Linked DNA regions of Homo sapiens. The protein of the gene in region 1 purifies or fractionates together with the protein of each later gene. This does not show direct contact. Each region holds a gene or a part of one and is shown in the gene's direction. Other genes may lie near its edges.

What was found.
Region 2: the proteins of ZNF224 (region 1) and LRP1B purify together in Homo sapiens (affinity purification with mass spectrometry; 2 studies listed by BioGRID and IntAct, with this or other methods). This does not show direct contact.
Region 3: the proteins of ZNF224 (region 1) and LRP4 purify together in Homo sapiens (affinity purification with mass spectrometry; 2 studies listed by BioGRID and IntAct, with this or other methods). This does not show direct contact.
Region 4: the proteins of ZNF224 (region 1) and SORL1 purify together in Homo sapiens (affinity purification with mass spectrometry; 2 studies listed by BioGRID and IntAct, with this or other methods). This does not show direct contact.

What each region holds. Positions count from the first base shown.
Region 1 is NC_000019.10:44,096,772-44,104,760, forward strand, and holds part of ZNF224 (zinc finger protein 224), read left to right. Parts: intron 1-1,034; 5' UTR 1,035-1,102; coding exon 1,103-1,117; intron 1,118-4,029; coding exon 4,030-4,156; intron 4,157-4,361; coding exon 4,362-4,454; intron 4,455-7,989.
Region 2 is NC_000002.12:142,120,278-142,128,266, reverse strand, and holds part of LRP1B (low-density lipoprotein receptor-related protein 1B precursor), read left to right. Parts: intron 1-7,989. UniProt on the Homo sapiens protein: Potential cell surface proteins that bind and internalize ligands in the process of receptor-mediated endocytosis.
Region 3 is NC_000011.10:46,894,089-46,902,077, reverse strand, and holds part of LRP4 (low-density lipoprotein receptor-related protein 4 precursor), read left to right. Parts: intron 1-1,699; coding exon 1,700-1,816; intron 1,817-2,101; coding exon 2,102-2,215; intron 2,216-2,574; coding exon 2,575-2,691; intron 2,692-3,045; coding exon 3,046-3,174; intron 3,175-3,400; coding exon 3,401-3,520; intron 3,521-3,773; exon of another isoform or gene 3,774-3,882; intron 3,883-5,083; coding exon 5,084-5,209; intron 5,210-5,742; coding exon 5,743-5,868; intron 5,869-6,059; coding exon 6,060-6,194; intron 6,195-6,786; coding exon 6,787-6,912; intron 6,913-7,258; coding exon 7,259-7,489; intron 7,490-7,989. UniProt on the Homo sapiens protein: Mediates SOST-dependent inhibition of bone formation. Functions as a specific facilitator of SOST-mediated inhibition of Wnt signaling.
Region 4 is NC_000011.10:121,601,617-121,609,605, forward strand, and holds part of SORL1 (sortilin-related receptor preproprotein), read left to right. Parts: intron 1-2,576; coding exon 2,577-2,708; intron 2,709-3,496; coding exon 3,497-3,623; intron 3,624-3,785; coding exon 3,786-3,955; intron 3,956-5,228; coding exon 5,229-5,341; intron 5,342-5,569; coding exon 5,570-5,674; intron 5,675-6,487; coding exon 6,488-6,560; intron 6,561-7,989. UniProt on the Homo sapiens protein: Sorting receptor that directs several proteins to their correct location within the cell. Along with AP-1 complex, involved Golgi apparatus - endosome sorting.

The sequences.
Region 1 (7,989 bases):
ACCCTTTGTCTTTCTATGCTTGATATTTTTGAAGAGTATAGGCAAGTTATTTTGGAGAAAGGCATTCATTTGGAGTTGTGTCTGATGTAATTCATGTGCGGGTTCACATTATGCATTGTTGGTAGGGATACCACAGAAGTGGTGAATTGCGGGTTCAGATTATGCATTGTTGGTAGGGATACCACAGAAGTGCTGAAATGTCCTTTTCATTGCAACATAACAGGGTCCAAGTGATGTCAGTTTGTCTCTTCATTGGTGATCTCAACCTTGTCCACTTGGCCGAGACGCTGTCTTTCAGATTTCTCCACTATAAAGTTACTTAAAAAAAATTGAAAAGAATAAAGTTTCTTAGGAATAGATAACATTATTAGTGGGCATTCAGCTGTAAAATGACCTTCTCCATTTATTCTTTGTTCAACTACAAATATTCTATCAATATGGCCTTAGAATTGACTCTTAAGTTAGATAACGTGTACATTAACAATTATTTTTTCCAACCTATTGTATCATATAACTTACTTATATCAGGTGTACATCCAGTGATCATTAGACAGTTTGCTGAATGGAGTAACCATCACCACAATTCGGTGATCATTTCATGCTCATATTGATTTCCTCCTGCCTACTTATGGTTAGACTTCATTCTCACTCAGATCTGAAGCAATCACTAATCAGTTTTCTCTATGCATTTTCCTACCCAGACATTTTATAGAAATGGAATCCTGCAATATGTGGTCTTTTTTAACTGGCTTCTTTCATTTAGCAATAATGTTTCAAAGGTTCATGTATGTTGTAGCATGAGTCAGTACTTCATTTCTTTAAATTTCCAAGTAAGATTCCATTGTATGGATAGACCATGATTTGTCTATTCATTTACCCACAGGAGGGCATTTTGGTTGTGCCGTTTTGGGTTTTTATGATTAATGCTGCTGTGAACAGTCATGTGCCAATTCACAATACACATCCCTGTTGGTGGGTGGCATCCCTGGCCACCTTTTCATGTCTCTTTTTCTGCCTTTCCTGGCACTTTGCAGGCACAATTCTGCTTTCCCAGGAACTGCATCACTCAGGACTCTGCAAGTTTCCAGAAGTAAGAGGGAAAATGACCACGTTCAAGGTGGGTAGGACTTGCTTCTATTACTCTTAAAATTCCCTCTCAGTACTTAAATTGTCACAAGTTTTCCTCTGTCTTGGGAAGACTCAAGGAGAAAAACAGACATTTGAGGATCTCTTGTGTACCATGTACTTCCTTTGTTACTTTTGAGTGGATTTTGCATTTGTTTTTACTACTTGTTTTCTTCTATCATTTATTCTATGGAGTAGACAAGATTGTAGGAATGGATAATTATTTCATTATACTACTTCTCTGCTCACACATTAGCTATTTTTATCCTGTGATACTCTTCCTCATGTGCATTCATAACTGTATTTGTATTGGTGATGTTAATCTAATTTAAATTGCACTCTTTGTATTTAATATTATATAATGTTCATTTTTAATGGTTGCACCATATTCCCATTTAATCGATGTTCCTTTTTAATTACTTTATACTTCCAGACACCAGGAACTCAGTTTTGAAAGGCTACTTTTGATGTGTGCCACGTTGGCTGTTTTGTAGATAGAGTATCCATATGTGGCACATCATGGCAGGCTGTAACTGTGGCTTCACACAAGGATTGCTGGAAGTTTCCACACAGGAAGAGCTAGATTCTCTTTCCCCCATGCCTGAGTCATGCCTTCTATGTCTTTTACTTACTGGCCTTTCTTTACTCCTTTATATACTAAGGAATTTGACCAAAGTAATATGTAAGCTAATTTTTTTTTTTTTGAGATGGAGTTTCACTCTTGTTGCCCAGGCTGGAGTGCAATGGTGCGATCTCGGCTCACTGCAGCCTCTGCCTCCCAGGTTCGAGGGATTCTCCTGTCTCAGCCTCCTGAGTGGCTGGGGTTACAGGCATGCGTCACCATGCCTAATTTTGTATTTTTAGTAGAGACAGGGTTTCTCCATGTTGGTCAGGCTGGTCTCGAACTCCCGACCTCAGGTGATCCACCTGCCTCGGCCTTCCAAAGTGCTGGAATTACAGGCGTGAGCCACCGCGCCCAGCCTAACCTAAATTTTTTGTGCATGATACTAGAAAATTTGCCAGTCACTTGTGTTTTGTTTCTTCATTTACTCCTCAGAACAGCTGAATGAGGCTGTTCTTATCTTCCTCTTAAACACATGAAATATGAGAAACCTGCTCAGGTTCAGACAGGAGACCAAGGGTCCAGAATATTAGTTATTTTAGCCTTTTTACTCAGTTGAAAGAGAGAGAAAAAGAAAGAGAGAATTCTCCATTGAGGGAACTGTGCCCTGTGGTGTGGGTGTCTGGAGTGTCCTGTTGAGTGATGATGTCCACAGGTGGCATCGCTCCTCCCTGGACCTACCTTGGGAGGGGGGCATCTTCTCTTCCTGTCGTAGTACCTCTTCCATGGCCCCCAGCACTTCAGGCACCCAAGGACGGCAATTACCACAATTGTTATAGAACATTTTAAAATTCATTATGGGAAAAGATGCCTTACACAAACCAGAAAATGTAACAGTCTAAGGTGAAAATATTTACCATTTGGATATCTAAAACAAGATACAATCCAAAATAAGAATCTTATGCCCAGACCAGGGAAGAAAATCCAAAGAAATACAAATAAAGGACATTACCAGGAATGTATAGAAGGAGAAAAACAGATGTCAATAAATATTTGAAAAGATGGTGGTATTCATTTATAATCAAATAAGTGAGAATAATAAAACAAAATCATGGCCAGGCCTGTGACTCACACCTATAATCCTGGCACTTTAGGAGGCTTAGGAAGGAGGATTGTTTGAAACCAGGAGCTCAAGACCATCCTGGGAAACATAGCAAGACTCTATCTCTACAAAAAGAAAAAAAAGAAAAAAACAATTTCTTCCTAATCAGATTACCAAAGTAATGGGAAAATTGATAACTTGCTTTTGGCTATGTTAAGAAAAACCAGAATAATGTATCCCCTTGAAAGATTTTGAAGTTAGGTAAAAAAAAAAATTGAGAAAACATGACATAATCATAATATTAAATTTCTGACATTTTGTTATTTAAAACTTACTTTAAATAGGAGAGTAAGATCTACCTGAAATGTTCTTTATTGGATTGGTAATCATGGAAAAGATATAAAATTAAATATTCATTATTTAGAATAACAATAGATTAGTTCCATGGAACACTATGCAGACATGAGATAAAATCGACAATAATTGACAAAAATAAAAATAGCTAATGTTTATTAAGTATTCAGTCTTGCTACACACTTTTCCCCAGTAACATACGTATATTCCACTGTTTAATTTGAAAACTATATCATGTGACGATCATTATATAGAGAGGAAAGTAATGCATTCAGGCCAACTTGTCCAAGGTCACATGACTGGGAAGGGACAGAGCCTTATATATGCGCTCTGAGGCACGCTGGCTGCAGATCATGACATTCAGTGTTGCAATTAATGTATGTAGTTTTTGCCTGGAGAGTATAGAGGACTCACTGCATAACTACTCAAACATGTCACCATAAGCTTGTCAGTTTGGCAAATGTTGAAGAAAAACAATAACATCCAGGGTTCGAGTTTGAGAGAGGAAGACAATGGGCATTATCAAACAAAGTCAGGACTGAATTGCTAAATGTTGCTGAGGGTGATTGTCAAGATTTATCAAAACATATATATGTGTAGCCCAGGATGCCACATTTAGAGTCCTAGAGGGTTACTTACAAGAAGACTCAATGATTGCACGAAGTAAAAATACAGGAAGTCTTTTTCATCTTTGTGTTTCTGGTGGAACTCAGGGAAATCAGTCATTGTCAGGATACAGACAGAATGAGTAGGAAATCTACGAGTTGACCTATGTCTCTCAAGATCCAAAACAACTTCCCACCCCTCCCCTCTGTCTGCTCAGTGCCACCCCTCTCCCAGGAATCATTGGTCATGAGACTGAGATTGCATATGTTTGATGCTATAGGAGGCAATGACCTTCAAGGACGTGGCTGTGGTCTTCACTGAGGAAGAGCTGGGGCTGCTGGACCTTGCTCAGAGGAAGCTGTATCGAGATGTGATGCTGGAGAACTTCAGGAACCTGCTCTCAGTGGGTGAGGACAGGCACCCTCTGTAACAGAACGTCAGGCCCCAGAGGTGGCTTTGTATCCTAGGGTACAAAGTTTCAAGTCTTAATTAGTAACTTGAACCTATGGTTCAAGTTTGAGTGTGCAGTAAGAACCTAAATTTCTGGTAAACTTTACCTTGATATTACCTAGAATGTGTTGGGATTAAGCATGTAAGTTTGCCTGTTTGCAGGACATCAAGCATTCCACAGGGATACTTTCCACTTCCTAAGGGAAGAAAAGATTTGGATGATGAAGACAGCAATCCAAAGGGAAGGGAATTCAGGTAAGAATCAAGCAACTGTGAATCCCTGTATGTCTCTTCCACCTGTTTCACTTCTGTCCATGCTCAAATCCATTGCCCTGGCCTAAATGGCCAAACCTCTTTCTTGGATTATTGACAACCATCTTACACCTGGTGGCCCTGCCACCCGCCTTCACATCCTGACATCTGTTCTCATAGCAGCCAAAGTGATCCTTAGGAAATGTAAGTCAGATTGCCATTCCTCAGCTCAAAAGCCTGTTTGGCTTATTTTTATTAAAGTTACAACCTCTTTAATTGACTTTTAGAGACCCTGTGATCTGCTCTTCATCCCCTCCCTGCCACCTCTCTAACTACATCTCCTGTCCTCTCCTTCTTGCTCTGTCTTTACCAGCCACTTTATTCTCCCTGCTGTTTCTCTGTCCTCCCAAGGGCACTGTGTTGCCTTTTGCTGGTACCCAGTGACCACAGACTGAGCAGACTGAGAGACAAACATTTATTATTTTTGTGTTCTTTAGGGATGAAGTCTGATACATCTCACTGGGCAATTATCAAGTTGTCTGTAGGGCTTCATGTTTTCTGGATGCTCTTGGGGAGAAGCCTTTACTTTAGTTTATCAGTGTCTAGGCACTGTCCATACTCCTTGGCTCTTGCTTCCCTTCCTCCATCTTCAAAGGCAGCAACTTGCATCCCCATAGTCATGCTCCCTCTGCCACTCTTCTTATGCCTTCCTCTTTCACCTTTTGGGTCCCTTGTAATTGTTTTGATCACTCCTGGATAATCCAGGATGATCTTTCTGTTCTCTGGTTAACTGACTAGCAACCTTAATTGCATCTACAACCTCTGTTCCCCTGCTGTATAACAACGTGATCATAAGTCCTGGGGACTGGATGTGGACATCTTTTAGGAACCATTATTCTGTCTCTACAGAAGCTTCTGTCTCAGCCCTTACTTGCTCATCTCAGTCACTGGGATACTCTGTCACCTCAAAACCTTCTGGCATCTCCTTCAGTTATTCAAGTTTCTTTTCAGTTTTAAAGTCATGAGAGAAGCCATCCTAAACCACTCTCTTTATAATTCCATTCTATTTTGATTCTTCTTGTGCTCTCTTGTACCAAGTCTCACATACTTCTGTTTATCTGTCACTTCTACATGCTGGACTATAATGTCTAAGGAATTTTAACTCTTCGTGGCTGTATTTTCAGTGCCTAGAATGGTCCTGGTACATGGCAGGTTTCCAAATTTTTGTTAACCTGATATATGAGCTAATGAATGGGGTGACTTCACTGTCTCCTGAAATTATGGAGAGAACTAATAAGTGAAACACAAACTACGGTGAAAGAGAGATATTGCAGAACATGTTTTTTGTCTTCCAATGGCCATGTATTTAATTACAATGTTCTTAGATTCCGTTATTTGATTGCCTTGTGTGTTTACGGTGGACCCACATCCCATGGAAACTTCTAAGCATTCTATTTATTACCATACTGAGCTATATGCCTTCCATATGACTTATCCTGGAGCTTTTCATAGGAAGCATATTCATTTCTGGAAAGAAATCATTTTTGAATGAACATTCTGATGTCTACTAGTGAGACAGCTCTTCTACAAGGGGAAAAAATTCTCCATTTTGTGATGTGTCAGATAATAACCAGCTTCCCAGCTAGCTTTCCTTTGAGAGATTTACCCATCTGCAGCCCATTTGCCTTTCCAAAGTCTGCATGCACGTCACTGACCCCAGGTTTCTTCTTCTCCTGGGTGGGGAAGAATGAGGAAGAGAGCAACACAATTCATGCAGCTAAACATTGCCTATATTTCTGGTCATCTTTGTTCAAAAATATGTATATTTCTGCACCTTCATTGTATACAGATTTAATTGTTAAAAACATAAAAGAATACAGATTTTACAACATAATTTTTCCTTTATTTTTTAGAGACCTAGTGCTCTATTTTCAACTTTATAACTTGGAAGGAATCAGGAAACTGCCCTCTCAAAATACTGACATCCTGAAAGAGACTCTCTCTTCTCCCCAAAAACCTCTTAAGTAACAGTGTGTTAAATATATCCATATTCCAGCGTGTACCATTGGGTACATATTTACCTATTACTGTTTTTCCAAGATTCAACCTTGGAAGTTAACTTTCCATTTGACTGACTTAATTTAGGACTTGGTAATATCCTGACCAAAGTTGTCAACATTTTTATGATTGTGAGTCATAGTAAGAAACACATCTTTCACCATAACCAGGACAAACATTTTTCATGCATGTAGATGTCTATGGGTTACTTCAGTAGGCATTTCATGAAATGATACCTTTCTTGCTTGTCATGAAGATGTGATCATTTCTTTTCTAGTTCTTTTTTTCTAAATGCTCATTAGAAGGTTTTAAATTTATTTTATAGCTCACTTTTTGTCTATATTCTTCCATTTGGAAATAAGTATAAAGGAGTATTTATCTATATCATATATTTTCTGCCCTCTTTTTTCTTCTTTTTTTATTTTTTTGAGACAGGGTCTCACTCTGTCACCCATGCTGGAGAGCATTGGCATGATCTCAGCTCACAGCAACCTCTGCCTCCTGAGTTCACATGATTCTCATACCTCGGCCTCCCACGTAGCTGGGATTATAGGTGTGCACCACCACACCTGGCTAATTTTTGTATTTTTAGTAGAGACAGGGTTTCACCATGTTAATCAGGCTGGTCACCAACTCCTGGGCTCAAGCAATCTGCCCGCCTTGGCCTCTCAAAGTGCTGAGATTACAGACATGAGCCACTGTGCCTAGCCTCTGGTCTTTTTTATTTTAATGAGAGTCTAATATCCCCACATGGAACCAACCCAGGGCATGACCCCTCAGGCATTCTTTTTATCCCAAGTGTTCTCACCACCTTTCATTGTCTCATCAGGAGCATCACCCTTTCTTTACCCCTGTCAGGTCCAACCTTTCAGATTCCCATCAAAACTGGTTGTCTGTTTCTTACCTATCTCAGTTAACCAAATTATTGTTCACATCTACAGAAAAATAAAATTAAAGATACATGTTATGCCAAATTCTTGTGTAGGAATATTATGAATATGTAGATATAAACACTCCTAGGCCTTTGATATTATTGTGAAGAGTTTAACTGGCTGCACAGTTTAGAGCAAGAGTTTACAGAAGATCGCTCTCACTTCACACCAACTGCAAGTGTGGGGATTTCCCAAAACTACCTTCACATTCAGTAATTACCTAGAAAGATAAGCAGAACTCACTGAATGCTTTTATACTAAAAGTTACGGATATTTACAGGGTAGAGATGCACATTACATTTCACCAAGAGAAAAATAAGAAACAGTTCTGGGAAGTACCAAATGAGGATCTTGTATTGTATTCTCCCCATAGAGTAGGATGCGTTAAATTCCCAGAATTAAGGTGTGACGTAGAGGGTACAGCGAATCAGGGAAGCTCACCTGAGCCCTGTATTTTTTTTTTTTTTGAGACGGAGTCTCGCTCTGTCACCCAGGCTGGAGTGCAGTGGCGCAATCTCAGCTCACTGCAAGCTCCAACTCCTGGGTTC
Region 2 (7,989 bases), on another chromosome or scaffold:
AAACTGTATGAACTATATCAGAAGTGTTTGTATTACCTTCTAGCTGTGTTTTTCCTTTATACATTCATAAGTTCAAACATTGTATTAAATAGAACAAGGCTTGAAACTAACTCGTATGTTTATGTTCAAACCATATACGTGCACTTGTCTTTTAATTCCTTATTGTTTATTTTATTAGTTTATATTGATTCTATATAGAGCTAAACTAATGTACATGTAAGTTTTTATTACATTCTATCACATCTTAAAAAGGAAACATCTTTGTAACTCTTAACAGCCAAAATTGGAAGATAAATCAGATTCACTTAGAATCAACTAATTTGTCATATAACAATGTCATATCATATCAAAGTATTGCTTGATAAGGATTAAAACTTAAAAGGAAGTATATCTTAAAGTGTCAAATTTTCTGAAAAGGGATTGAGAGGCCTAATGCTAGTCTGTGTTAAATTCTCGAGTATGATACAATGTGGAGACACATTTCCAAATAATTAAAGTTCATGCTGTTATAGTCATTTTAATGTATCTGTATAGAAAACCATCAAACAATGGCAATTAAATGTATATCAAAATTTTAATCTCCCCTCAAAGAAGAATGAACTGCGATTTATGTCTCTTCATATGCCACAAATAACATTAAAGTTTTGTTTTGAAGAGGTTGCTAATCTTTGAATTTGTTCTCTTTCTCTCTTCTCAAGCTCAAATTTAAACTGAGTGAGAGAGAAAAGAGAAAATGGAAAAGGTAAAGAAAGAATTTAAATGTGCTAAAACAATAAGAAAGAATGTGAATTGCAGAAAACAGAATTCAGGAGGAAAAATGGAGTTAAGAGAAAGCTGAAGATAAATTTAGGAAAAAGATGAATGGATGGATGGATGGATGGATGGATGGATGGATGGATTCTGCCATACATCAGAATCTGAATCAGTATTTCTTGAATAGGTTAAAATATCTTTAGACAAAATAATTTCTTAAAATGTTTTTATCTCATTATTAAAAACATTATATGAAAATATTTACAGTATAAAAATAATTTAAGGAAAGTGCCACCAGTGTGAATCTGAATATAATTAGACCTCTAAGAATGGAGAGAGACATGAGAATATTGCAGAAAAATTAAATATTAACTGTGCTAGAATTACAAATATGGAAGTGATTTTTTAAAAATGTAAGTGAAGGTAAAGGAAATTTTCTTAGAAAGGGTGCTAGATGAGTGATATGGTTAATGTATTCTTAGGACTTAGATGACACTTTCTAAATGCTGCTTGTTTTTCAAGGTGGAGGTATGCAGAAATACTTAGTTTGCAAATCTATTGGATCCAGGACATTAGTTTCTTGCCAGTTACCTTGTCAATTTCTTTTCTCAGCCCAGGGGATACCATAAAAATCAGCTCCATTTAAAGTCACCTGAACTGAACAGGACTTGGTCTTCTACAAGGATTATGATGTTGAGGGAACTTTATGTCTTTTCTCCATTCTATATATGGATCCAGTTTTTTATGTTTCTGCCATTAATTTTTGTATCTTAATGTGAAATGTGCAACTCTCCCTCCCTTTCCTTCAGCATTTTCCTGGTTATAGGAATTCTGTGTAGTAAAAAGTACCAATCAAACATACTGATAGATTTCTCTATCTTCTGTGGCTGTCTGTCAAAACAATTCTTGTACAAAGGAAACACTTGTCTTCATTCTAGATAGATGCATTCAAAGAAAGTAGAATTAATCCTAAAAGTTAAACATGCCTGTGCCAACATGATATCATTCGTCAAACTAAGTTAGTAGTAAGTGGAACCCAACTATACAATTGCCCCCAACCCCGTTTTTAATCTCTCTCTGTGTGTGTTTATGTGTGTCTGTATATCTGCTTTAAAATGGCTTTCCTTGGCACAAACGCCATTAAAAATACCACTCTGGCTTGAAAATTGGTGATGGTTTTTATGAATGAAACTTTTGCTTTTGAAAACTCCAGATAAACATGTCTATTTATCTGGACAAAAAAAAAAGTGAAATGAAAAAAATTTTAAGTTATTTTTTGACTCATAGCATATAATATTCTAATACATTTCGATATAACAAGTATTTTGTTTTAACAGAATCTGACTGTGTGGCAGAAACACGTGTCAAAATTATCTGCTTTTGAAATGAATATAATTATGGTATACCCAATGCTTATAATTTGAAGCAATACATTTAGTAGCAGAATGCTAAAGAAAATAAAGCCAAAGACTGAGTTCCATTATGAATTAATCAGAATATATGCTCAGCCAAACTCCTATGAGAAAATATCTATGTCTACCTTAGATAGTTTTAAAACTTTTCTTAAATTTCTTCAAGAAACCTGGCTTCCCCCATATAATCCAAGAATAATGACCAAAACTATCTTGATGCATAGAAAGGTCAAATAAGAAGGTTTTTCTTTTGGTTTTGGCAGAGGAGGGGGGAGAGTAGGGAAAATTAGCTAATCAAACAGAAAAATGTCAAGGGATGCTTTTTATTTTCTTCTGTGGAGTTGCTATACATTTTCACATGGATAGCTATTCCCAAATTTAACCTGTGTCACAAACCATTGTCTAGAGACATAGAAATGAAATTGCAACAGAGCAATCACAAATTGTATAGTCTATAGGCCTTGGGAACATTCTCCAGTTATTTTATTTTGGATGGAGATTTTTAAAACTTATTAGTTTTTTGGGATAAAATATTATTTAAACAGTAAATAAGACAAAAAATGAAAATATCTCTAAAAATAATTTGAGTTTTTAAAAGTTGGTTTTTGGACTAATTTCCATATGTGAGTTCCACTGGCACAGAATGAGTGTCTTTACCTCACTCACTCAATTTTGAAAAGTATTATACTTGCAATAGTATTGAATCTCTGTTCTGGCTCTTCAGTCCTCTCTCATTTGAATAACATGTCAATCTCACCAAGTACATATGAACCCTCTATTTTAGAGAAAGGAGAATGAAGGATTCAGGAGATTCTGCCATTCAGCACAACAAGTAAGCTTACATCTTCCAAATGTATATGCTGTTTTTTTTCTGTTTGTCTTCTATAATCTGCCCTCACAATTTTAAATCTATATTTTCCTCTTCATAAATGATCAGATGGCCTCCCTTTTTCCCCTGGCATAATTACAAGGCCAAGTTAGAAAGTATGTATTATGTATTGCTCTGTTCTAAATTGAGTGATATTAAAATGTAGAGTCAGTCTCACTCTCTCCATCTCTCTTTCTCTCCATCCTTTCTATTTAGGCTATCTCTATACAAGCCCACATATTTTGACTGAGCTCCCTGACTAAACCAATTGATGAAACTGACTAGTAACTAAATGGAAATCAAAACTATTAAATAATAGCCATACATCCTGTAAAAAAAAAAAGTAAGACTGGTCTTGCAGGAAAAGCCTAAATTGAGATTCTATGAAGAAACAATAACAACAACATATTTCCCTGAAAGAATTATGCAACATATTTCTAGTTTGCAGAGCAAATCATATGTGCTTTTGCTGTTGTGTCTCTCATACTAGGCAAATGAAATATTTTTGGTAGTAACTACATATTTATATAATGGGGTATTATACAAGTTTAAAACACTATTAGAAAATAAATAAGTATTCTGAATTCATTTGTACTCAAAGAGAATTTACTATATTGAAAGTGGAAATTTATTATTTTTCTTTTTGTCTTTACTTTTTAACTGAATTTGTATTTCTCCATTTTGTGAAACATTAAAAAAAACTTAAATATATTCCAAAATGTGATTTCAAAGATTTTCTCTCAATAAAGAATATATATAGTGGAAATCATTCATAAATTGGACAACAGGATTAAATGCTCTTTTAAATATGACTATAATAATTTTCATATGCAGTCACATTAACTTAGTTTTAGTCTACAATTAGGTACCCAATTATGATTTTTAAAAATGCAATGGCATGAATAAATAAATGAGTATACCCATTTGTTGATCTTATTCCCTATTACTTCAAATTTGTAAGTATCCTTAGTGGAAAAGAGTAATGTTCATTTTGGAAATAATCATGTCTCAACATGATTGGGGTCTACTCAAGGGGGAGGGTGGGAGGAAGAAGAGGAGCAGAAAGGATAACTATTGGGCACTGGGCTTAACACCTGGGTGGTAAGATAATATGATCAACAAACCCTTGTTACACATGTTTACCTATGTAACAAACCTTCACATGTACCCCCAAATCTAAAATTAAAATTAAAAAAAACATGTTTTTCTGTTGTTCAATAACTCTACTCATATTTGTTTAATAATGATGTATTGTCTACATTTGGGATTTCTTCTTAAATATTGCAGAATAGTTGTAAATACGTAACGCTTTTCAAAGGTGTCTTTACCTTTAGAAAAGAAAGAAAATTAATTTTGATTAATACATTTGTACCACAGATCCATTTGTTTAATCTTATTTTTCTCAAATATAAGCTCGTATATAAAAGTTTCTCAGATATAAGCTTGTGTATTTAAAAGTTTCCATTTAAACATGAATAATATTATAACTATATCCTTTACAGAAGTTGAGAAAGTACCTTTTCATATACAATTTCTTCCAACTTTGTTAAGAGAAAAATAACCAAAAAAAAAAAAAAACTTCTTGAAGAAGATAGATCATGTTGCCTTGCTAAGATACCGACATTACATTTCATCTCACAATACATTCTTATTAACAGTCAGACATCTCTTCCTGAGTTGCATACACCTCATTGTCCTGACTGGCTTAGCCTTCAGACCAAAGACAGGTATTGTTGAAACATGACCTCATTTTAGTCAAAAGAATATGTTTCTTCTTTAGGTAAGATCAAGGTACCACCTATCGTCTCTTGTTTTATTCTTGCAATCAATAGGACATCCCTTCCTAACTTTTCCACATTGCATTGACATCCTTCAAGATTTCCAAGACTGCTTAACTTTAGAAATACGAATATATAATTCCTTAAGAATTTTTCTACCGCTGAGTTTTTCTTTAATGACGATTTGTCATCTTAGCCCTTTCTTCTTAAAATGAGAAAAGATAACTAACAATGAGTTTTGGGGAGAAATGAAACTTAGTTATGGTTGCTTTGTGTGTTCCTAGCATATCTTAAGATATTTGTGAGAAAGAAAAGCTGTAGGTGTAATGCTGATAACCGAAATGTGTTTAGAATCATCTGTTTTCTTTTGAAACTAGGATGTGTAAGGAAAGGAAGAAAAACAATGCCAAGAAAGAGAACTTTGATAGTCAGAATTTATTGAAGCTTCTGTCCACTACTGCTCAGATCAAGTAGCTGAGCTAATTAGAACCTTAAACTTTTGCTAAAATAGATATTATAGAGATTTAAAAATGATTCAGTTTTTAGATTATCTAAGACATTTTGTGCATTTCCAAAGCTTTTAATGGTATATTTTTATTGGGACAAAAATGTTAGAATAGCAAGTGTGCTTTATTGAAATATTCCACTTTATCCAACTCTATTAACTTTTAAGGCATTTTTTTCATGACTAAGATCTGGAAGTACAGTGATAATGACACCACCTCGTGAGTGAGATTCTTGCCTCATCAGGTGAAAGCACTACAGATTGTGCCCACTGGGCATCCATATTTTTGAGATTTTCATTAAGCATAATAACTACATCAGATTTGTAGATGGAATTACTAACTCAGAATTCAGGCACTCTTGCTGAGCGCCCTTGTATTGATGTCATTTCTAACACAAAGACTAGCAGTTCAGGAGCACTATATTGATGTCCTGTAATACAACAGCACACTAATCTTATTTGCAAGAAAATTTGATGACTATCCAACATGATCAACATTTAGAATATCTAAATCTAAATGTTGAATTTAGATATACTAAATATATCAGATATTCAGAACTTAAACCTTCTTCTTTGTCCGTTGTTGTATTACACTCAATTCTACAGTTCCTTCTCCTAGCACGTTTTCTTCCTATTTTCACTTGCTAGTGATCTTGTCAAATATTTAGAAATTAATCTTGACAGTGAAAGAACCAACATCTTAGCACATTTTGACTTCCTTTGCTATTCTCATTGCTAGGAGAACATAAAGTAATGAAGGGCATGAGGGTTTTACCTTGTGTGTATTTTCATCTGGGTGTCTATGAAAACACCACCAGAGTTTTACAGAAAATTGCTCCGACCCATTCTGAGAAGATAAACATAGCTATGACCCTAACGTTCTGTGAGTGCACAGAGTGTAATGTCTGTGAAAACACATCGTATCATGTATTGCATTACATAAATACCTATTATTTTATTAATTATATTAATTGCTTAATATGAGTTACTAATAGCAAGAAGCTCTTTACATTTTCAGCATACCTTCGCTTTTCATTCAAATTTTTTTTTTCTTGCTGAATCACATGATCCTTGAAGCAACTCATATAGTTGGTGATCACTCATGTGTTTATTCACTCATTTGACAAAGATGAGCAAATAAGTGGTAATCACTATTTTACGTGGTTGGAATGAAGCAAGTGAACAAGGTAGACAATGTAACTGGGCTGATAGGGCTTTAGTGCAAGAGGAGACAGAAACAGCAAACAAATAAATAAATAACATCCTTGCTAAAAAGAAAGAAAAATAATGTAATGTGACTGAGGACAATGCAATTGGGAGTCGTAGTTATAATCGCAGAAGGCCTTGTTGAGTAAGTGACATATTTGGTAAAACTAAGTGACGAGAGGGGACAAGCTCTGAGTCATCTAGAGGGAGGAATTTTCTATGCAACCCTTGAGAGGAAGTTGTGATTTTGGTATTTTAAAGAAAGCAGGTCACTTTGTCTGAAATAAACTGTGTGTGTTTGGGAGAGAACAGAAGTAGAGAAAGCCATATTTACAGTGAAGTCAGATTAGGTCAGGTAGGGTCATGCAGATCAAATTGAGGCATTTGGGTTTGGTTCTGATTTTGAGCAGCTACTGGCTGTCTAATCAGAGGTGAAAATGATGCAACTTACTTTTTAAAGAGATCATGCTTGGTCTGAAAAGAAGGACAAGAAGGGAAATGATGAATCCAGTTCAGGGATTATCAAATTCATCCTGGAAAAGATGTTGATGGCTTGAATGAGGGAGTAGTAGTGGCAATAACGACAAGCTACAACAGAGATTTGCATTTTTAGTTTAGAAAGATTTTCTATAAGAACGAATGCAGCACCATTCTATGTATTAGGGAGGATAGGCATGAAATAAAGCCGCAAAAGATAATCTTTGGGGGAAAGGGTTAATATTCTAATCAGATAATAAATTATTTCAGGCTATTTTAAATGGGTACATTCCATTTTGCAGTGCCTTTTATTGATTTGTGTAAAACATGGTTCACAATAAAAGTCACATGATGGTCATATGTGGGCCCTACAATATTGTTTACTTTCTTATTGCTTTTTCTTTTATATTTCAGAATTATTAATACCATATTTCCTAACACCCTGTGTTTGCCTATGCCATGTCTGTAAAATGGAATTAATTGAGTCTGACTCACAGTATTCTTTAGGGAATTAGTTAAAATGATACACTTAGCAATGTTTTAAGCATTGACAAGTATGGAAGCAATAATTTTGCTGTTATTTCTATCAACATAAACCAGCATAATAGCAAAAGAAACAGGCATTGGCCTATGAAGACTTATTTGGGTTTGTTTGTTGAAGAAATTTGCAGTGTTTTAAAGAAAGAGCTCCTTTTCAATTGTCCCTGAATTCTTGACATGATTGAGAAGAGTTTGTACTGACACTCAAGTTCCTGCTGATGAATATTTAATTAGGAAAAAGGGAAGAAATTGTAACAAAGCTATTATTGGCTGTATTCATCACCCTCCCTGGAAATTCCAAGAAAACTGTAGTAAAGGCCGGGCATGGTGGCTCACGCCTGTAATCCCAGCACTTTGGGAGTCTGAGGTGGGCAGATCACCTGAAGGCAGGAGTTTGAGACCAACCTGGCCAACATGGTGAAACCCTGTCTCTACAAAAAATACAAAAAT
Region 3 (7,989 bases), on another chromosome or scaffold:
CCACACCTTTCTTAGTAACTTTGTAAGAAATCTTATATTTTCTTAGGCCGGGCGCAGTGGCTCATGCCTGTAATCCCAGCACTTTGGGAGGCTGAGGTGGGCAGATCACGAGGTCAGGAAATCGAGACCATCCTGGCTAATACGCTGAAACCCTGTCTCTATTAAAAATACAAAAAAATTAGCCGGGCGTGGTGGCAGGCACCTGAGGTCCCAGCTACTTGGGAGGCTGAGGCAGGAGAATGGTGTAAACCCGGGAGACAGAGCTTGCAGTGAGCCGAGATCGCGCCACTGCACTCCAGATTGGGCGACAGAGCGAGACTCCGTCTAAAAAAAAAAAAACTTATATTTTCCTTAAGTCTCCCTTTTCCCCTAGCATGGTAACATCTGCACAGTTGGCCAGGGTGACCTGTCTTGGATATATAGAAATATCCCTGCTAAGCCAATAGTCTGGATTAGAGGCGCAATCTCTGACCTACCTGTAGCATCTATGTCTGAGGGTGGCTAATTAGTCTAATGGGAACGGAGGTACAACCTGGACCTCATTAACCCTAACCAGTTCAGCTAATTGTGTTGATGATAAATGCTTCACTTTCATGTAGCATTTTCATAGGCATTATATCAAAAGGCCTCTATGAACTGAGTATAATTATCCCCATTGTACAGCCAAAAAGACTTCAGCTCAGAGAGGGTAAATGACTTGCTCAGAGTGTTACGTAATGAACTGGAAATTGAGCCCGGGTGTGTCAATCATCATTTAACAAGAGGAAAGGAGGGGAAAAAGGCGCTTCTTTCTCTTGCTCATGTTTTTCTTATGTTTTCTTAGCTCCTGTGAGTTCTTTGGGTTGTTCTTCCCCTACCCTGTGAACCCCTCACCACAATTACCTTTTGAATCTCTGTCTTAGCTGCAGTTTCTGCTTAGCTTCTCCATCAGCTGGGGATGGGCCTAGGAGTCAGTAAGGAAGGACTATAAAACAGACAAGGGGGCTGGGTGTGGTGGCTCACGCCTGTAATCCCAACAGTTTGGGAGGCCAAGGCAGGTGGATCTCTTGAGGCCAGGAGTTCGAGACTGGCCTGGCCAACATGGCGAAAACCCACCTCTACTAAAAATACACACAAAAAAAAAGATAGCTGGGTGTGGCAGCGGGCACCTGTAACACCAGCTACTCGGGAGGCTGAGGCATGAGAATTCCTTGAACCCAGGAGGCGGTGGTTGCAGTGAGCCGAGATCATACCACTGCACTCCAGCCTGGGTGACAGAGTCAGACTCTGTTTCAAAAAAAAAAAAAAGGCCAGGCGCCATGGCTCATGCCTGTAATCCCAGCACTTTGGGAGGCTGAGGCAGGCAGATCACCTGAGGTCGGGGGTTTGAGACCAGCCTGGCCAACACGACAAAACCCTGTCTCTACTAAAAATGCAAAAAACAAAAACAAAAACCAAAAAAACCTAGCCAGGTGTGGTGAAGCATGCCTGTAATCCCAGCTACTTGGGAGGCTGAGTCAGAATCGCCTGAACCAGGAGGCAGAGGTTGCAGTGAGCCAAGATTGCGCCACTGTACTCCAACCTGGGTGACAGAGTAAGACTCGGTCTCAAAAAAAGAAAAAAAGACAAGGGGATTTGGAGCAAAAGGCTATCTGGCCTAGTTGAGCCTGAGTAAGAATACCAGGTTGATTGACTTTTCTTTTCTTTTCCTGGGATTCAGTACTACCTACCTGTTCCCCTCTTGACTTTCACTGTGACAATGGCAAGTGCATCCGCCGCTCCTGGGTGTGTGACGGGGACAACGACTGTGAGGATGACTCGGATGAGCAGGACTGTCGTGAGTGTTGGCAGAGGCTGGGCGGAACTCCATTGAGTTCCACTGGGAAAGGATTTTCAATCAGAAAGCAATGCCCCAGGTCCACATGAGCCCTTGTGTTTTCAGCACTTTGTCCTGTCCTTTCACTTCCTCTCGAAGTCAGATAAGCTGCTGAGAGGCAGCCACCTCCTTCGGAGCCCTCAGGGCAGCACTGGAGCTACTTGACTGCTCCGGAGGGCTTTAAGTCAGGCTTCCAGGCACCAGACCCCCACTGCCTGCAGCAGCCTGACTGCTCTGTGCCCACAGCCCCCCGGGAGTGTGAGGAGGACGAGTTTCCCTGCCAGAATGGCTACTGCATCCGGAGTCTGTGGCACTGCGATGGTGACAATGACTGTGGCGACAACAGCGATGAGCAGTGTGGTGGGTGACCCCAACGGGGGAAGGCAGGCAAGGTGGCCAGTGGGTGGCCTGGCCATGGGAGAAGATAGCAGCAATGGCCCTAGCACTGCCAAACCTCCAACTGCCCAGATATCTGGAGCAGCTAGAGGAACGCAGAGGGGGCAGAGCCGCTCAGACCCCCCAGAAACTGTGGACCAGGAGGCTGAGGCCCAGTCTCTCCAGGGCCTCCGTTCTCCCTGGAGAGTCTGCACTGACTCTGGGGTGCCTTTCGGGGGCTAGGTCAGACCCGCCAAAGCCAGTGAGGTTGGGAGTCAGAGAGGAGGGTGAGAGGGTTGCCTGTGGGGCCCCCTCAGAACTGCTGTCCCATCGCATCCCCCCAGACATGCGCAAGTGCTCCGACAAGGAGTTCCGCTGTAGTGACGGAAGCTGCATTGCTGAGCATTGGTACTGCGACGGTGACACCGACTGCAAAGATGGCTCCGATGAGGAGAACTGTCGTGAGTGGCCCCAGACCTCAGGCTGTTGGGTTGGATGAGGGCAGACAGTTCTGCCCATTGGCTAAGGGCGAGGCTGAGGAGTGCATGTACCAAGGGCAAGGAGCATGGGTGCCTCAGCAGCAGCTCCTCCTAGGCTGAGCTAGGGAGGGAGCAAGTTCCCCAGGTGGGAAGGGAAGGCTTCCTTTGGTCCACCTGAATATGGGCGTCTATAAGGGCTGTCCCAGATGAAACCTGGTTACATCTCACTTGAAGAAGCTCTCCTGCCTGAGCATCCTGCCTGCTTGAGGAATCAGGGCCCCTCTCCTTCATCCAGGCCTGAGTGTGTGCCCCTCCCCACCCCTGCCTTCCCTCCAGCCTCAGCAGTGCCAGCGCCCCCCTGCAACCTGGAGGAGTTCCAGTGTGCCTATGGACGCTGCATCCTCGACATCTACCACTGCGATGGCGACGATGACTGTGGAGACTGGTCAGACGAGTCTGACTGCTGTGAGTACTCTGGCCAGCTGGGAGGTGGGGAGGCCAGGCTGGGAAGAACTGCTTGGGTGGCAAGGCACAGTCGCCAGCTGGGGCAGGAGTTCAGAGAGGAGTTTCTGGATTTTCTGGTCCCTCTTGGGAAGAGATGGAGGAACTGGGATTCTGGGGCTGTGGCCTTCTAGTCTGCCATGGGACACTGCACAGACTGGCTAGAGACAGAAGTCTTGTGTTTCCCTAGCCTCCCACCAGCCCTGCCGCTCTGGGGAGTTCATGTGTGACAGTGGCCTGTGCATCAATGCAGGCTGGCGCTGCGATGGTGACGCGGACTGTGATGACCAGTCTGATGAGCGCAACTGCAGTGAGTGGGGAAATGGAATTAGGTTGGGCTTGAACTAAGGAGAAGGCTTGTGGAGCCAAAGAGGCCACTACCGGCTGGGCGCGGTGGCTCATGCTTATAATGCCAGCACTTTGGGAGACCAAGGTGGGTGGATTGCTTGAGGTCAGGAGTTCAAGACCAGCCTGGGTAACATGGTTAAACCCCATCTCTACTAAAAATACAAAACTTAGCTGGGTGTGGTGGCGCATGCCTGTAATCCCAGCTACTCGGGAGGCTGAGGCAGGAGAATCGCTTGAACCTAGGAGGCAGAGGTTGCAGTGACCCGAGACGGCGTCCCTGTAGCAGAGTGAGATGACATCTCAAAAAACAAGACAATCCGGGAGGTGAGGGGCGCCTCTGCCTGGCCGCCCCTACTGGGAAGTGAGGAGCCCCTCTGCCCGGCCAGCCGCCCCATCCAGGAGGGAGGTGGGGGGGTCAGCCCCCCGCCCGGTCAGCCACCCCGTCCGGGAGGGAGGTGGGGGGGTCAGCCCCCCGCCCGGCCAGCCGCCCCGTCCGGGAGGGAGGTTGGGGGGTCAGCCCCCCGCCCGGCCAGCCGCCCCGTCCGGGAGGTGAGGGGCGCCTCTGCCCGGCCGCCCCTACTGGGAAGTGAGGAGCCCCTCTGCCAGGCCACCACCCCGTCTGGGAGGTGTACCCAACAGCTCATTGAGAACGGGCCATGATGACAATGGCGGTTTTGTGGAATAGAAAGGAGGGAAAGGTGGGGAAAAGATTGAGAAATCGGATGGTTGCCGTGTCTGTGTAGAAAGAAGTATACATGGGAGACTTTTCATTTTGTTCTGTACTAAGAAAAATTCTTCTGCCTTGGGATCCTGTTGATCTGTGACCTTACCCCCAACCCTGTGCTCTCTGAAACATGTGCTGTGTCCACTCAGGGTTAAATGGATTAAGGGCGGTGCAAGATGTGCTTTGTTAAACAGATGCTTGAAGGCCGCATGCTCGTTAAGAGTCATCACCACTCCCTAATCTCAAGTACCCAGGGACACAAACACTGCGGAAGGCCGCAGGGTCCTCTGCCTAGGAAAACCAGAGACCTTTGTTCACTTGTTTATCTGCTGACCTTCCCTCCACTATTGTCCTATGACCCTGCCAAATCCCCCTCTGCGAGAAACACCCAAGAATGATAATAAAAAAATTAAAAAATAAAAAAAAATAAAAATAAAAAAATAAAAAGAAAAAAAAAAAAAGACAAACAGGCCACTACCCATAAATCTTGAAGACACTGGGTAAGACCACCACCATGTACAGTTGTGTAGGTTGTGCACTGTGCAGAGGCAATATGTCCAAAGGGAAGCCAGTCACATAATAGATTTATATACTCATCATGGCAGTTTTCCAGCAGATGGCAGTAAAGTGTCTTGAGGAAAGGATACTTTTTTCTGATTCACACAAAGACACTATATAGACCAGCTGTGATCCCGGTGTCAAGAGTGGCATGGGTACTGATATAAGCTGCAGATTTGGGTGGCAGGGAGAATTTCAGGCTGAAATGGGGCCCACCTTTCATTAAGCCTTTGCTTTGCCCAGCCACCTCCATGTGTACGGCAGAACAGTTCCGCTGTCACTCAGGCCGCTGTGTCCGCCTGTCCTGGCGCTGTGATGGGGAGGACGACTGTGCAGACAACAGCGATGAAGAGAACTGTGAGAATACAGGTGGTGTCTCCCGGGGTGCCCCAGAACCCTTAGCCTATAGTTGGGGTGGAAGGGTGGAAAAGAGGGTGCTTTGGTATCTTTCCAGTTGGGTTGAGGTTTTACCAGTGTAAAATCCAGGTGCATCATTGACCTGCGGCCTTATGGCCTGGAGCACAGTATCAGAGCTGCGAGTTTCAATTGCCACTCCTATTCTAACTCACACACAGCCAGTGCCTTTAGCTCTGGTCTAGTGAGGAAGGACTACCCTCCATCTGGCAGCCCCCATGTGTGCTCCCCTGGCCACACCCAGTATTGAGCATGTGGTTGCACTTTTTCATTCTGTTCCATATTCCTCACCATCCCACTGTGGAGTCCTGGGGAGAAAGCAAATGCAGACATTCAGCCAGCCCTGTCTGAGCTGCTTCCTGCCCAGGACCCTCACCCTCCCACCTTGAGTCTCATCTGTCTCCAGCTTACCCTAGAAAATGACAGGCTCCCATCTCTTTGTTGGCCCAAGCCCTGCCTTGCTATGACCTGACCCTCCATCTCTCTAGGAAGCCCCCAATGTGCCTTGGACCAGTTCCTGTGTTGGAATGGGCGCTGCATTGGGCAGAGGAAGCTGTGCAACGGGGTCAACGACTGTGGTGACAACAGCGACGAAAGCCCACAGCAGAATTGCCGTGAGTGTCCCCAGTGGGCGGACCTGGCCCATGGTTTGTGGCCGAACCCCACCCATAGGGTTCAAAGGGAATCCTCCCTCAGGACTCTTGCAGCTTTGGGAGCTGTTCTTTGTGGTCCAGGTGGAATGCCAAGTTGGCTCTCTGGGGGAGGATTCTGGGCTCAACTCCCAACTCTGGCTTGGCTGGCACAGGGCCCCGGACGGGTGAGGAGAACTGCAATGTTAACAACGGTGGCTGTGCCCAGAAGTGCCAGATGGTGCGGGGGGCAGTGCAGTGTACCTGCCACACAGGCTACCGGCTCACAGAGGATGGGCACACGTGCCAAGGTGAGCTGGGGCCTGGTTTGCAGCAGAGTCGGGGTTCTGAGCAGGGGCAGCAGACAGGCAGCTGTGTTTCCTATGGGTCAGGCATTTGAACGGTGTGACCTCATTTCGTCCTCACAATAACCCTAGGAGGTGGGGATCATCCTTCCCATTTCACAGATGGGGAGACTGAAGCACAGAGAGGATAAGTAGCTTACCAAAGGCCACACAGCTGGCGAGTAGCAGAGTTGGGATTCCAGCCCAGGTCTGCATGACCTTAAAGCCCTTAACCATTTCTTCTTTTTTATTTTTTATTTTTATTTTTTTGAGATGGAGCCTCGCTCTGTCGCCCAGGCTGGAGTGCAGTGGTGCGATCTCGGCTCACTGCAGCCTCCGCCTCCTGGGTTCAAGCCATTCTCCTGCCTCAGCCTCTTGAGTAGCTGGGACTACAGGTGTGCGCCACCACGCCCGGCCGCCCTTAACCATTTCTTAGACAGCCTTCCCACTAGGCCTGGAAAGTAGATGGGGATGTGGGCAGAAAAGCAGCTCGGCAGCCTGGGAGCGGGAGTGGGAGGACGACAGAAGGGAGATCTCTTGACCTGCCTGGTGTTCCCAGATGTGAATGAATGTGCCGAGGAGGGGTATTGCAGCCAGGGCTGCACCAACAGCGAAGGGGCTTTCCAATGCTGGTGTGAAACAGGCTATGAACTACGGCCCGACCGGCGCAGCTGCAAGGCTCTGGGTAAGGGCTGTTGGCACTTGGCTGGGTGGGCAGAGGGCCGAGCATGGAGGAAGGCCAGGTACTCTGGTGCTCAGGGATTTGCAGAGAGGTAGAGAGATTTCTGTCACAGTAAAATGCAGCAACAGTTGCATTCTGAGCCCCAAGAAAAATGCTGCTGGGGTGGAGTGGGGTGGGGAGGGGTGGAGGAATATAGTTTAAAGGTTGCCACTCTTCTGGTACTGATGCTGACAGCTTGGGGCATGTCCTTGTGAGCAAGTGGCTCCATCGGTCAGCTGAAGACCTGCTGATGGGTACCAGGGGCGGCTCTGAAACCCAGTGGGTATCCCATGTTTATACTGTTTCCCAGGGCCAGAGCCTGTGCTGCTGTTCGCCAATCGCATCGACATCCGGCAGGTGCTGCCACACCGCTCTGAGTACACACTGCTGCTTAACAACCTGGAGAATGCCATTGCCCTTGATTTCCACCACCGCCGCGAGCTTGTCTTCTGGTCAGATGTCACCCTGGACCGGATCCTCCGTGCCAACCTCAACGGCAGCAACGTGGAGGAGGTTGTGTCTACTGGGCTGGAGAGCCCAGGTAGGGAACAAGGCCCCATGGAGAGGGGCAGAGCCATGCCACATGCGCAGCAACGGTGGGAGGAATAGGCCAGTGGTTTGCAAACCTTAGGCAGCAGGACATCTTTTTCTTCCAGGGAAATCTTAGTTGGAGCCCTAATATAGAAAACATTTGTTAATGTATATCAATTTTATAGGTTCAAATATAACATTTGCTCATGATTGAGCTCAATCAGTGAGAATAATGAGACCACGTTGGTGGTTGTGATCATGGGAATCAGATTTATGGATGACAGAGTTCTCCATCAGCCTTTGCATCTAGTTTATTTCTGAGTTTTGTTTCGATTGCTTAGTATTAAGAATATTCTGATTGACCTGGATAAGTATATCAAAATGTTTTATAGATTGTTAAAAAAACAGGCCAGGCACGGTGGCTCACGCCTGTAATCCCAGCACTTTGGGAGGCTGAGGTGGGCAGATCACCTGAGGTTGGGAGTTTGAGACCAGCCTGACCAACATGGA
Region 4 (7,989 bases), on another chromosome or scaffold:
TTATGTTACCCAGGCTGGTCTCAGACTCCTGGACTCAAGCAATCCAGCCTCAGCCTCCCAAGTAGCTGGGATTACAGGTGCACACTACCGCACCCAGCTTACTTCCAGAGTCTAAAGCCCATGCTTTTTTGCTCTTAAAATTTTGAGACATACTTTATAAAGAAACCTCCAACGTCCTCAGCTCTACTGCTTAGCTGTTGTTTGATTATATTTGACCACATTGTTACCCAGTAGAATACTTCTGTGATGGGGGTTTTGGTATTTTTCAAAATAATCCCCTCTGGGCATAGTCTCTCCCTGGCAATCCTATATAAAATGGCATAACCTGATCAGATTAATGTACTTGTTTGCAGTTTCTCTCAATAGAAGATAACTCCCTGAGGACAGGTCCTTCATCTGTTTTACATATCCCCATATTTTTAACATCTGGAGCAGTGCCCGAGTCATGGTAGGACCTCCATGAATGTTCACAGAATTCCATCTTGGGCTTCTGAGACTATTACAGTAGTGGTTCTCAAACCTTTCTCTAATTCTTGAATACACGTTTATTTGTCATGAGCTTCCCCCCACCATGGCAAACCAATTTCAGCTCAGTATATAATAGAATTCTGAAATGCAATGATCTTCCTGGAGAATGGGGGATTATAGTTTGTGAAAAGCCTCATAAGTGGTTTTGATAGTTCCCTTCTATTGACAATTTTTTATCAGGATTGTTTTTGAATAAGTAGTGAACTGAAGTCTGTACCTCCATCCTAGAGACTCGTGCAAAGAAGTCTTAATTCTTCTTTCTCATGAAAACTCATCAGTGGAGAACACTTGTCAGAGTGGTCTGCATGTCTTCTCACCACCTCCCCCATCCTTGTATCTTTTCACCTCTAGGAAAATATCCCTGGATCCTTTATCCATTCCTCTTGACCATCCTGGTTGCTCTCATGGGAACATTATCCAGTTTCTCTACCTATATCTCAAAGTGTGGTTGTTTATGTTAGGAGGAAGGAGAAGAGGGAGGGGGTCGAGGTCAAGAGGTGACCCATGACCACATGCCTGGGTCTGAAGTGGGGCGTATGAAGCTTCCTTGCTCAGGTCACAATGCTCATATCACCTTTAACATAACTTTGTTACTTGTGTGTACACTCTCTTTATTTCCTCAGGGCTTAGTTTCAGGAAGGGACTATTATCATCCTTGCTTTAAAATTAAACTATAAACAAAATTCCTTCCATAGTTAGCTTGGCCTACGTGCAGAGATAGGCAGAGGCCGTTAACCTACAAGATGTCACCATGGGCAGGGGGCAGGGTGCGGGGAGCAGAATGGAGCCACTCATGTTCAGCCTCCTTTTGTCTGTTATAATTTCCCCATTTTCAAAGCCAGTGATGTTGCATGTCTCTCACCTGTCTTCTGTATTCTCTCTGTCTCTCACCACAACCAGAAAAGGGTCTCTGCTTTTAAGGACCCATGTCATTAGACAGAGCCCACCTGGATAATCCAGGCTGAACTCTCCTACCTATGGGTCCTTAATCTAATCACACCTGCAAAGTTGCTTTGTTACATAAGGTAACATATTACAGGTTCCAGGGATTAGGATGTGGACGTCTTTGACTTGGAGGAGCAAGATTGATTTTAGACCCTCATCACTGGTGGGATTGGATTTCTGATGTAGCCCTTCCTTGTCCAGGACTGGGCAGGCAGGTGTGAATCTGTATAAGGAAGGCCTCAAGTTACTGTTCCTGGGCTCAACCAGCTACATAGCAGATTTGTACCACCCAGGTACACAGCCTGCATAGCAGATTTGCTGTCTACAGCCATTCTCACCTTTTCTCTTTTCAGGAGCATTTGCAATTATACGGTCATTGCTTTCTTTTTGGAGCCTCCCGTGCAGTTTTAATCTACTTTCAGAACTGGAGAGCACATCACATTTTGGTCAATAGCCTAGACATACAGTTGCATAACCCTTAACTTACCAGTGCTCATTATTTGCATTATTTCATTTTCTGTTCAAGTACTTTGAAAAGCCAAACAACTTTAAATACTACATAAAGTATGCATGCCTCTTAATATTGTTGGGATTCATCTCATTGTTATTTCTGTTACTCAAACCAGAAATCAGCTCCTCTTTCTAGATTGCAAACTAATAATAGTAGCAGAATAATTAATAGTACTATAGAGTAATAGCTACAGTTTGTTGATGCCGGCCAGGAGCCAGGCAGTGTTCCAGGTGTGTGATCTCATTAGATCCTTGCAGACATGATAGTGATGGAATTGTTACTTCCATTTTTTATAGGGCAACTGAACTCAGGTGATATTAAGCTGTTTGCTCAAGCTCATGCAGATCTAGGATTTAAACTCTAGTTTGTTTGACTCCAAAGTGCTCACTCTTCCCGAATGCAGATTCCAGTTGTTAATGTTAGATGAGATGGCACCTTAGTGCCGGTATAGATTCCACCACTGGTCATTCCAGAGGTGTGTTTTGAAGCAGAAGCCAATTAGTACTTTGCCTAAATGGGAATAAACTTGGGCCCAGCCTTTAGTACCATACGGCCCCTCCCCGTGGACTTAAGAAGCCTCTCTGTGTTTCAGCCACACACAGCACCTTGACTTGCATGAGCAGGGAGTTCCAGTGCGAGGACGGGGAGGCCTGCATTGTGCTCTCGGAGCGCTGCGACGGCTTCCTGGACTGCTCGGACGAGAGCGATGAAAAGGCCTGCAGTGGTGAGTGCCGGTCCACGGGCTGGGCTGGGCTGGGCTGGGCTGGGAGGCTCGCTTACCCCAGGGCCCCTCCTGTGTAGACCTTGAGCTAGGACCCTTTTGAACTGTTGCTCAATCTAAGGATAAAACAGATTTGTGCCTAGTTTTGGAGCCCCAAGTGAGGTGAGCCTTGGCCAGACTCTGATACAACATGCAGCTGTCTCCTCCCTGTTAGTGAAATGCTAGTCTTGGATTTTTTTTTTTTTATGGACTTCCCACCTCATGCCCATACACCATGGCTCTCACAGTCTCAATCTGCTGGTGGGATTAACTCAGTTCTTATCTCTGGAGTGTCTAGTAATGGACCCTATGACATGGTCCTTGGACTTGTAGCATTCTCTATGGAGAAATAGGCTTAAATTGTCATAGGCAGGAGGAAGATGAAATTCGAGGGAAAATATCACGACCGGAAAAGTAGGAGACCCTAGGAGGGATTGTATAGGGAGGTTTCAACTACATTTTCTGAGATTTCTTTTCAGATAATGATTATGGCCTCCTGATAATCTAGATCATGGTAGTTCTGTTTAAAAGCAGGAGTCCTTTGAAATCTAAGGATTTGTAAGATGTAACTTTTTTTTTTTTGTATTTTTAGTAGAGACGGGGTTTAGCCACATTGCCCAGGCCAGTCTCGAACTCCTGAGCTCAGGCAATTTGCCCGCCTCGGCCTCCCAAAGTGCTAGGATTACAGGCGTGAGCCACCACGCCCAGCCAAGATGTAACTTTGTTTGTCTTTTTCTCCTTTATCTCTCTAGATGAGTTGACTGTGTACAAAGTACAGAATCTTCAGTGGACAGCTGACTTCTCTGGGGATGTGACTTTGACCTGGATGAGGCCCAAAAAAATGCCCTCTGCTTCTTGTGTATATAATGTCTACTACAGGTAGGTCCCATCTTTGTCATGGGAGATGAAAATGATGTCTTCATTGCCCCAGGATGTTCTGTAAACTCTCTAGTGGCATGCACCATGCTATTAACGGAGTCAGACATCTCAGCCCCCCATGCTGCTCCAGTGTGACAATATCTTTATTTTTTTTTGGGCCAGGGTGGTTGGAGAGAGCATATGGAAGACTCTGGAGACCCACAGCAATAAGACAAACACTGTATTAAAAGTCTTGAAACCAGATACCACGTATCAGGTTAAAGTACAGGTTCAGTGTCTCAGCAAGGCACACAACACCAATGACTTTGTGACCCTGAGGACCCCAGAGGGATGTAAGTGTTTCAGTTAATTTTTATGGCATGGGTAAGACCTCAGGTCGGGGTTTGTGAGGGTCTTTCTGAGTATTCTCAGGAATGTGGGAACATATGTGTGCCTCACATGTACAGAAGTATGGTGGCTAAGCTTTATAGTCTTGCCAGAGTTGTCAAACATCTGTTCTTCTTACTGCATCAGAGACTGTTCTTGTACCTTAAGTTAATTTAAGATTCTCTCCACCATTGCCCTCTTGCATTTTTTGTCTAGTTTCTACCTCTACGTTCCTCCTCTAGATATTTCCTAGTACTTGGTACTTAGGAGGAGGTCATCGTCATTAAAATATGAGGCATATCAGCAATTTTGTGGCTAAGTTTTTTTCTTTTTGGAGACAAGGTCTCACTCTGACACCCACACTGGAGTGCAGTGGAGGCGCAATCACTGCTCACCACCTCAGTCTTCCCAGGCTCAGGTGGTCCTCCCGCCTCAGCCTCTCGCATAGCTGAGACTATAGGTGTGTGCCACCATGCTCAGCTAGCTTTTTGTATTTTTGTACAGAAAGGGTTTTGCCGTGTTACCTAGGCTGGTCTTGAGCTACTGAGCTCAAGCAATCCACCTACTTCAGCCTCCCAAAATGTTGGGATTACAGGTGTGAGCCACTGCACCTGGCTTTGTGGCTAAGTTTTTAAGAAATTTACCAAATTTATGTGTCTAAGAGAGTTCCTCGCCTCCTCCCTACTTCAAAGTAGTTGACATGAGCAACTGTCTGCTTGAATGTCATCTTTTTTCATTGCCTAAAGTATCCTGAATATGCTAGCGCTAAACTCATTAAGGAGCCTGCTTTGAAGATGATCAAATTCATTTGGATATAGAAATTCTGTGATGTTACAAAATTAGTCTTATTTTTTGGTAGTCATGCCCACAGTACAGTTTTTGTTGTACAAGAAGCAGAGGCAGCAGGTGCTGTCATTGACAATTAAGATCTCAGCATGGAAGTCTCAGGGTCAGTGGTGACTCAGCCTGCCCAAGTGATTCTATCCTGCAGCCCTTATGAGCCACAAATTTACCACACACTCAACTGAGCCATGATGTGATGTGTGGACGGCACACCTTGCTTTTTGGAAGAAGAGGAAAAGTGTCTTTTCAATGTGACGACCAAGCTAGCAGCCTTTCTAGTGGATAGTCTCAATGCCGGCTGTGGAGTCGTTCTTGTCCTTGTTCTAAGCCCAGGAAAATTCCTCTGGTTGGCTGCTATGCAGATGGGTTTTAACCTTGAGTTGACTCTTTTTCTAGTGCCAGATGCCCCTCGAAATCTCCAGCTGTCACTCCCCAGGGAAGCAGAAGGTGTGATTGTAGGCCACTGGGCTCCTCCCATCCACACCCATGGCCTCATCCGTGAGTACATTGTAAGTACCTTCCATGAGTTGGCTGTATGTGTGTTGGGGGTGCTAGGAGATTTCTGGGTATTCTGTATGACGAGGGGGTTGATTTGGTTTAGCTTTGTAGGTGATGACCCATCCGTCAGAACATTTTGCTCCTCACCATCTTTTCTCTCCTCCAGCCTCCTTGCAAGATATTAGGATGCCCTGGACCTTTGGTTCCCTTTACTCACATTTTTTTTCTTCTCCCTTTAGGTAGAATACAGCAGGAGTGGTTCCAAGATGTGGGCCTCCCAGAGGGCTGCTAGTAACTTTACAGAAATCAAGAACTTATTGGTCAACACTCTATACACCGTCAGAGTGAGTGTCGTCATCCATTCCAGCCATCCATGCAGTCTTAGAACTGAGCGAAATTGCTGCTGTTTTGTGAGAACTCTCTACTCACCTTTGTGAGATGCATATTAGTAATCTGCAAAATACCCAACTTCTTGCCCTGGGACGGGGGAGCTCAGAGTTTCTTTCAGTCTCTTAAATGGACACCACAAAGAGCTTGACATCAGAGTTTCTGTAGATAACCGGGCGTTTATGGGAATGCCGCTTTCCCTGCTTTTAACTCCGGTATTCTGCTAGCTTTCCAGCTCCTATACTTTTGCAGTCAGCTCTTTCCTGCTTATCTTTAGCTGCAGGATGATGCAGAGCTATGATAAGTAGTCTTTCTAAACTGATTTTATGAGGTTCTTATGAAATATATTTTTAGTATTTTTAGCAGAAAGAGATAGATTTTGTGAACAACATGTTTGCTGAGACCATTAAGTGTGCACATTCATGACTCTCACACTGATAATTTTGTCAGTACCCTTTTTGTATATGTGTGTATTTATGAACACACCCCCCCATACACCTGCCCTTTAGAAGAACCTTGATATTTGTGGATCAATAGAAATTTTCTGATCTCAGGACTGTCATAATGCCCTTTACCCAAGCTCCTTCCCTTGGCTTTTTTGCCCTCTTATTTCAGATGCTGGGGCCTCTGAATATTCTGGATCACTCTGTATAAAATTTTTCCAGCCTCACTGCCAAAATCTCACCCCTTTAGCTCATTCAGTATTCTTACTGTATGGTGTATGGTGTATTGCCTTTATTTCATATTAATTCACCCTCTGATTTGAAAAGGTGGCTGCGGTGACTAGTCGTGGAATAGGAAACTGGAGCGATTCTAAATCCATTACCACCATAAAAGGAAAAGGTAAATGATCCCAGCATTTGCAGATTTAGAGAAAATATTATACAAACCCTTTCAAATGACTTTCAGTATGACCGGAAAATGGAGAAACGTAGTTTAGAAAAACATCACACAACTTTCTTCTCCCCAACACACGCACATTTTTGGGTGTCTCTGTAGTGCTTTAGATAGAGTCTTTTTGGGGTGACTGAGTGTCTTTTTCCTCCTAGTATTGAGCATTTCTTCTAATGCAGACATACAAAGGGATTTCCAAAGGCCATCATGCGCAGCCCTTTGTGAGTAGTCAAAATATCTAAAATAGAAGGAGTCCTTCCTTCTCACCAAAGCTGAAGATGATTTTGTGCATGTTCACTTACGGGGTTTTAAAGAAAGCACCATGCTGACTCTTGTTATTCTCCCAGTGGCACTGGCAAACTGTGTGTAGGTGGTTTTTTATCTTGTACTAGAGCTGATATTAGTAATAACTGATGGCTTGCCAAGGGCAGGACACTCTAGAGTGTTCACTGCTTTGCGTACATCAGCTCATCTAATTGAACAGTCAGAACAACTACAAGAAAGGATAAGGAACTGGAATGAGGTTATGTCACTTGTCCCAGGCCACACAATCAGTAAGTGACAGAGCTGGCCCTGGAACCTGATCTGCCTGACTCCAAAGCCTGTGCTCTTAACCACTGTGCTCCACGCTTCTCTCTGGGCTGAGACACATGCGGCCTACTGGACCGCCCTGCTTGCCGGGGGTGGCGGGCTCAGCATCTTGCACGAGTGCCTCATGAGGGCAGAGATCTGGTCTGTTTTTCTCTACTCTATCACGGGCATCTAGTAGAGACTAAGGAAATAATTGATGATTGAGTGAATCGAAGCAGTTAAATGAAGGGTTCTGGCATACTTTGGGAGATGGACTACAACTCATTTTCCAGAGTGGTTTTCCTGACCTTAGCCTTGACACTGGGGACTTGCATTTCTGGACTTCCAGGTATTAAAACCAGATGGACACTGTGGCATGCAATAGGACTGGAAGATTTTACTTTAACCTAAGCCTGTGAGGAATAGGCTCTGGGTCATGGAGAGTCACTATCTAGTCCCCTCTAAAATCTGGAGCCTTTGAGATCAGGGCCCAAGGCGGCCAAACGTAGTGCCACCAGATGGTCTTTGGAGCTGAATGCTTGCAGGTATTAGAGAAAGCCTGCTGAATTCACACTCTCCTAGAATTTTTATTGTTGTATCTCTTCTCTCTACAAAGTCTGTTTCAAAACACTGACCACACATACCAAGAAGGGATGTTGGAAGAGCAACCAAATACATGTACCTTGAATTCCGAAGGCACAAGTCACAACTGCATTTGAAAATCTCAGTGGATGGTTGGTTCTCTTTAACTTCTTTTCTGTGATTTTGATGAATCTCAGCTGCTTGCATATATTTGGGCTAGGATTTG